Homo sapiens: one gene and its partner. The protein of the gene in region 1 purifies or fractionates together with the protein of each later gene. This does not show direct contact. Each region holds a gene or a part of one and is shown on either strand. Other genes may lie near its edges. The genes, in order: MAP3K8 and KSR2.

Region 1 (3,820 bases):
CTCCATTAATCTAAGAAGTTGCTCTCCTAACTCAGCAGACTCCAAGAACCTGAATCACAATCTCCCTCGAAGATGTACAAGATCTCAGGAGGGGAAGCTGCCCCCTCACTCTAGATTTCACGGTGGTGATAACAGCCATGAAAGCATTTCATAGGTTTCTGCCTTTTTTTTCTCTCTCTTTATGTCTTGTTTTAGATGCAATCTTCTTACCGCGAAGAAGCCAGGGGAATAGGTAGCCACATCTTGTTTGCAGATAAGAAAGGAAGCTAACGCAGTATCTGCAAAGCCAGGAGTCTGACTCAGTACTTTTCTCACTCATGCATACAAAGCAGCTAAAAATGACACAGCTTATTTACCATGCCCCTGACACTGCACTGAGCACTTTATGAGCTTGAACTCTGTTAATCCTCACGACCACCTCATGAGGTAGGTGCTGTTATTACTTCCATTTTACAGATGGGGAAAATTGAGGTCGAGAGAGGTTACGTTACTTGCTCAACGTCATGCAAGCAGTAAATGGGAGTGTGGGGGGAGGCAATGAGATTTGACTCCAAGCAGTCTGAGACCAGAGGAATGTTGGATTGCAGGATGCTAAACTGCTTTCCTCAGACACAATTCATACGTCAGAAAATGACCATCAAGTAAGTGAATGATGACACTAAATTGCATGGTTCTTTTGTCAAATGAAATTCACTGAGAGGCAGATGGCTGGGTCATGCGTGCAGGTGGCTCTGCAGTGGAGCATTTCCTGGAGCTTTGAAATGAAGCTCCAGATTGATCAGACGTGCGTGGCTTTAGCCCTGAGTGTCCTGTGTGTTAAAGGCTTGTGCTTCTCAGAACTTGAAATACCTTTCAGAAAGAGGCTATGCTTTTGGGAGTGCAATCGGTGATTTAAGTAAACCAATGTGCCTTGAAATTCTCTTAGATCTCTTAGGGCCTTTTGTCTTTTCTCCTTCAGAACAGAGTTGTTCTAAAATCCTGAGTAACAACGTCAGTTTTTACCCTTGCTTTACTTTCTTTTTCTCATCTACAGATCTCCAAGTGTGGCAGCTGATTTGTATATAAGAGCTGAAATGCAATTTTGGTTAATATAGTCACTTGGACTTGCTTATGATAAATTTGACTTTCCTGGCTTCTTTCTACTACTCACAGCTTCTAGAAGGCCATTTATTTAGATATTAATCTTCTGGGACCCTCAAGATGTTTGCTTTGCACTATTAAAGAATTCTGGTCCTAAGGGAGGACAGCTGAATCATAGGTTAAATGTATCATCATCTTTCTCATACTCATCACTGGGAGAACAAGGTTTCCTGTCATCCTTCCAATTAGCTGTTTAACTCATTTGCATAAGAATCATTCCTGAAACTTGACCTATTGCCATCAAATTTGTGTAGATTGAAATCCATTTTTCCAGCTTCTGGCTTTCAGGGCCTGAGTTTTATTTGCCAAGTTAGCTCCTGCATTTAGTGAAGAGGTTATTTTTCTTTAAAGTCACCAGAGGCATAAAAAAGCCATAGCGATTCTTGCAGGGAGGGTGCCACTTCGGGGGAATAGCTGGGTTGTGTAAGGTTGGAAGCCCTAAAGAGCCGGTAGCCTAAGGTCTTCAAAGATTTCTGAGCTGCTCTTGATTCGTGTGTATGTTTAGTGAAAGTTTGTTTTCAGTGCCTGTAGCTGATACCACTGACTCTGTGAGTAAGAGTAAGCTCTCTGGATCTCAGGTTTCCCTCTGCAAAGTGAGCTGGACTAAAGGTTATCTTAGGTCCCTTTCAACTCTGCACTGTCAACTTGAATTCATACACACAGTTGACACAGAACCCTCGTTTTCTGAACAAAAGCATATAAAATCCTGTTGCCAATCCTTGTATGTCAGTTTCCCATGGGTCTTGAATGCAAATACAAATATCGTAAACTAAATATTTGTGTTTTCTTTCCTAGACTCTCCAGAAAGAGCAACAGTAATGGAGTACATGAGCACTGGAAGTGACAATAAAGAAGAGATTGATTTATTAATTAAACATTTAAATGTGTCTGATGTAATAGACATTATGGAAAATCTTTATGCAAGTGAAGAGCCAGCAGTTTATGAACCCAGTCTAATGACCATGTGTCAAGACAGTAATCAAAACGATGAGCGTTCTAAGTCTCTGCTGCTTAGTGGCCAAGAGGTACCATGGTTGTCATCAGTCAGATATGGAACTGTGGAGGATTTGCTTGCTTTTGCAAACCATATATCCAACACTGCAAAGCATTTTTATGGACAACGACCACAGGAATCTGGAATTTTATTAAACATGGTACGTTTCTTTCCGATCAGTTGGGTGCTATGTGCTCAGCTTTCCTACTGCAGCTTCATTTAATGCAGAGTGGTGTTTGAATTTGGCTTAGATGGGCTGGCAGGCATGATTTTAAAAAATGTAATCATCAGTAAGAAGTACTTCCATGTTAAAGATGCAAAAAAAAAAGTCTTCATTAAAATTTCTATTTAAAGATTCTTGATCATATTTTAGTAGTATTTCTACAAATAGGTAATTAAGAAGAATGTATTTTGGCCGGGTGCAGGGGCTCACGCCTGTAATCCGCGCACTTGGAGAGGCCGAGGTGGGTGGATCACTTGAGGTCAGCAATTAGAGACCAGTCTGGCCAACATGGTGAAACCCCGTCTCTACTAAAAATACAAAATTAGCCTGGCATGGTGGCGGGTGCCTGTAATTCCAGCTACCTGGGAGGCTGAGGCACGAGAATCCCTTGAACCTGGGAGGTGGAGGTTGTGATGAGCCGAGATCACACCACTGCACTCCAGCCTGTGTGACTGAGTGAGACTCTGTCTCAACAACAACAAAGAAGAATGTATTTTAATTTAACAGTTCACTAAAAAGTTTATTCATCAGTTATGCAGAAAAGAAAGGCTTAATGAGACTCCTTCGTCTGAGAGGGGAATAAACACTTTGTCACTAATTAATCTTGAAGGCTGAATTATTTGTTCCTTTCTTGTCACATCTTGAAATGTTATTAATTCATTTCTTGCAAAAATGTAGTATGTAGGCAGTAAATAGCTATCCACAGATTCACTCTCTTTCATTGGCAAAGTATGAATGGCAAGTGATATATTTGCTTAATCATCGCAAGTATGCAAATCATGCAAAATATTGTGGCAACATTTTGTTGCCATAATAGTAGATCAGGTGATGTGTTTAGGTGTGCCTGGGATTCTGTCAGGCTTTTAGTATGTCAGAGGTGAACGTAGGTGCTGGCTAAAGGTAACCTAATATTTTTAAAAAGAATAATTTGCAAAGGAGTAGGTGGTAGCTTGCAAAACATGCTTATTGATGAAAGTGACGCCCTTTCTTTTGGTGTATCTAAATGGCAAAATGGCTAATGTTGGGGGAAAGTCGGTGCTGAATGAGTGCGGAGTCCAGAAAAAGTACTTAATTATTTTGCTTTTTTGCATACCACATTCATTTAATTAAAAACAACAGAGTAATTTAGGTCAGGTATGTAGTGAATTGTTTTGTCAGAAGCCAGTCATACTCAACCATAGCTCACAATGGAGCAAGATAATATTTTGCATTGTTGTGTGACTGCTTTGGTCTGGCTCTATCAAGCTCTATTTAATAGTCGACTAAGTACTTTACCTTCAGAATATTTCTTCCTTTTATAAATGAGAAATAATCATTTGAACTAGAAGCCATATCTGATTTTCCCAAATAAAGGATAGTTGGAGAACTCGGGTTCAAAGTTATATATATGTCTATACCGAGAAATATAATTGTTTGTGTATTTCTCTCATTTTTAACGTATTTATTTGTTAAAATGGGAATTA
Region 2 (3,820 bases), on another chromosome or scaffold:
TGCTCCATCCTCTGATAGCTTCCTGGATGGGGATGTGCCGCAGTGGGCATTGCCTTCTTTCTGCCTAGTGGTTTTCCTTTTAAACTGGGGGGATGGAGGCACTGGTAGGATGGCTATGGGGGAGTTGCAGTTGTAGGAAATGCATCTGTTTTCAGTTCCCTTGTCCCAGTATGCTACAGAGCATGCAACCACTTTCATCCATCTTGCCCAGGGAATGCTCTTGAGCAATTATTCCAATTTGTATTTCCCAGATTTGCAGGGTTAGGGAGGGCCCCTGCAGAGGGGCTGGTAACTTAGGGTCCAGCCAAGTCCAGCCAACGCTAACATTTGGGTCCACGGAATTTTCTAATTTTGTATATCAAAACCATATGAGGGTGCTTGTTAAAATGCAGATTCTTAGCCTCTAACCCTAGAGATTCTAGTTTAGCTGGGATTAGCAAGAGGGTCAAGGAATCTGCGTTTAATAAACAGTCCAGGTATTTCTGATACATGTTTTCAAATGGACACTTTGAGATGCTAAACCATTAGGAGAAAGATGTGATATTTCAGCTCTTTAATGGTGAAAACTCACTGCTTGCTAACACTAATGCAAGTAATAAATTGAATAGATGATCCCTGAACAGTGCTGTGATAATGAACAGCACTTAATAGCATGTATACACTTCTGTAGAAACAAAAATATGCAAGGTGGACTTGGCCTTCAGGAAGCATACTTCATGATATAATAATGTGTATGTGAAATAATGATAAAGTCTAAGTGGTAAATAATATGGGGGACAATGTGTGAGCCCATTAGGCATGTGTTCAGCTGCATGAAATGGAAAACCCAATCCTAGCAGTAAGGCAAATAATGGTTTCTCTTCATGTAACAAGAATTCTGGAGACATATAGCTGCTTCAGTTGGCTCAGTAGGTTAGTAATACCAGGGCTGATGTCTTTGGGAATTCTCATGGCTTTTCTCTTATGGTTGCAAGATGGTTCCTGCAGCTTCAGCGATTACATCTGAGTTCAAGGTAGGAAAGAGGAGGACCTGGTGAGTGTGAAGGAATAAAGGGTTCCCCAGGACATCTCTTCCTCCTCACCTTGCAGATGATTTGATTATATCTTCTTGGCCAGAACTGAGTCCTAGCTGCAAGGGAGCCCGGGAAGTGGGGAAGTGGGACCACCACCAGGATCGGCTTAGATGGATCATGATCCATTGCCTGAAATGACATGTTGCCACTCCATGCAAAATCAGGGCTCTGCTAGTGTGGAAGGAGGCATAGGTAGATATTAAGTAAGTGGACAGCCAGCGATGGCAGCCATGGCACATAGTCAGAAGATATTTTGGTGGAAAAGAAAGTTCATGAACGTTGAGTCAGACTGATATAGTTGTAAATTCTAGCTTGTCTTTTTACTTTATCTTGGGCTAGTGATTTAAGTTTTCTGATTTATAGTTTTAAGTTTTTGGCAAAACAGCAATAATTAAATAATATTCCCTACTTCAGAGGATGGTTATAAGGATTGAAAGAGATAACGTTTTCAAGGGTCTAGCACTATCTGGAACAGAGTGGCTGCAGGTGCTAAATGAATGACAGCTGTGATGATGATAATGATTGGCATTACATGGTGTTGACTAGATGGCATGGAAGGGAGCAGTTCAGATTGGACAGAGAGAAGGAGGAGCTTGAGTAGCATTTCCAAAGTATGTTCTGTAGAACCCTAAATCTGTGGGATGTTAGCGTTTTTAATTCTTTCAACAAATGCTGACATCCAGGCACTGTACTTAATGCTGGTAGTCAATAAGTGTTCTGTGGACAAAACAAATTCTGTGGTTAATAAGTTTGGGAAGGGTTGAGTTAAGCAAAGGGAAACAGGCATCTTTACTGCAGGACTTTTCTCAGAGCCTTTAATATGCTACCTATGTGTATTAGGCCTCCAAGAGAGGATAGAACGGAGTCTCGCTCTTGTCACCCAGGCTGGAGTGCAGTGGCGCAATCTCAGCTCACTCTGCCTCCTGGGTTCCAGTGATTCTCTTGCCTCAGCCTCCCAAATAGCTGGGATTACAGATGCCCGCCACCATGCCCTGGTAATTTTTGTGTTTTTAGTAGAGACGAGCTTTTGCCATGATGGCCAGTCTGGTCTTGAACTCCTGACCTCAGATGATCTGCCCGCCTCGGCCTCCCAAAGTGCAGGCGTGAGCCACTGCACCCGGCCCAAGGATTTCTCCTGGGATTTTTGTTCCATAGGATACACCTGGGAAAACATTTGGCAAAGCAGGGAAACCTTCTTGGTTGGGGAGATGGGGATTTGGAGTGAAGGATGAGGAGGGTTTAGATTGCAGCAAAAGGGGAGAGCATGCTGGACAAGAACAACAAACCAGATGAAGGTATTTGAATGCCTTCATGGGGCAGCCTAGAGACCATTTTGCCCAGAATGGAGGGTACCTGGTAGCCTGTCATAGGAAATGAATTTAGGCCACTAACTTCTGGGATCCAACTAAAGATTAGAGAGTCAGACCAACAACGTTTCATCCCTTTGTGGAAGGAGATAGAAGTCTTCAAAGGTTTTGGAATGCATACAATAGAAAAGTATAAGCTTTTTTGTTTTGTTTTTTTTGAGGCAGGGTCTCACTCTGTAACTCAGGCTGGAGTGCAGTGGCACGATCATGGCTTACTGCAGCCTTGACCTCCAGGGCTCAAGAGATCCTCCTGCCTCAGCCTCTTGAGTAGCTGGGACTACAGGTATGCACCACCACGCTTGGCTAATTTTTTGTATTTTTTAAATAGAGACAAGGTATTGCTATGTTGCTCCAGCTGATCTTGAACTCCTGGGCTCAAGTGATTCGCCTGCCTTGGATGGCAGCCTACGGCAGGGGCTGGCAAACTTTTTCTGGAAAGGGACAGATAGTAAAGAGTTTAGGCTTTGTGGACCCTGCAATTTTTATCAAAGCTACTCGACTCTGTGCTGTAGCATGTAGCAGCCATGGGCAGTACATACATGAATGGGTGGGGCAGTTTTCTTTTTATTTTGAGACAGGGTCTCGCTCCGTTGCTCAGGCTGGAGTGCAGTGGCGTGATCTCGGCTCATTGCAACCTCCGCTTCCCAGTTTCAAGTGATTCTCCTGTCTCGGCCTCCTGAGTAGCTGGGATTACAAGCCTGCACCATCACGCCTGGCTAATTTTTGTATTTTTAGTAGAGACAGGGTTTCAGACCAGCCTATTGGCCAGGCTGGTCTCAAACTCCCGACCTCCAGTGATCCGCCCACCTCAGCCTCCCAAAGTGCTGGGATTATAGGCGTGAGCCATCAAGCCGGGCCTGGTGGGGCAGTTTTCTAATAAAACTTTATTTGTGGACCCTGAAACTTGAAATTGATATACTTTTTGCATGTCATGAATATTTTTCTTTTGATTTTTTTTTTGATGTTTATAGTTGTACAAACTGTAGTTTCTGGGCCTTACAAAAACAGGTGATGGTGGCCAGGCACAGTGGCTCACGCCTGTAATCCCAGCACTTTGGGAGGCTGAGGTGAGTGGATCACTTGAGGTCAGGAGTTTGAGACCAGCCTGGCCAACATGGCGAAACCCCGTCTCTACTAAAAATACAAAAATTAGTGGGGCATGGCAGCGGGTACCTGTAATCCCAACTACTCGGGAGGCTAAGGCAGGAGAATCACTTGAACCTGGGAGGTGGAGGTTGCAGTGAACCAAGATGGCACCATTGCACTCCAGCCTGGGTGACAGAGGGAGACTACATCTCAAAAAAAAAAAAACCCAAAAAACAAAACAAAACAAAACCCAGGCGATGGGTCATATTGGGCCCATGGGCTGTAGCTTGCTAA

Evidence for each region.
Region 2: the proteins of MAP3K8 (region 1) and KSR2 purify together in Homo sapiens (affinity purification with western blotting; one study listed by BioGRID). This does not show direct contact.

Annotation. Positions count from the first base shown.
Region 1 is NC_000010.11:30,436,981-30,440,800, forward strand, and holds part of MAP3K8 (mitogen-activated protein kinase kinase kinase 8), read left to right. Parts: exon of another isoform or gene 1-154; intron 155-195; 5' UTR 196-426; intron 427-432; exon of another isoform or gene 433-641; intron 642-1,935; 5' UTR 1,936-1,958; coding exon 1,959-2,294; intron 2,295-3,820.
Region 2 is NC_000012.12:117,962,381-117,966,200, reverse strand, and holds part of KSR2 (kinase suppressor of Ras 2), read left to right. Parts: intron 1-3,820. UniProt on the Homo sapiens protein: Location-regulated scaffold connecting MEK to RAF. Has very low protein kinase activity and can phosphorylate MAP2K1 at several Ser and Thr residues with very low efficiency (in vitro).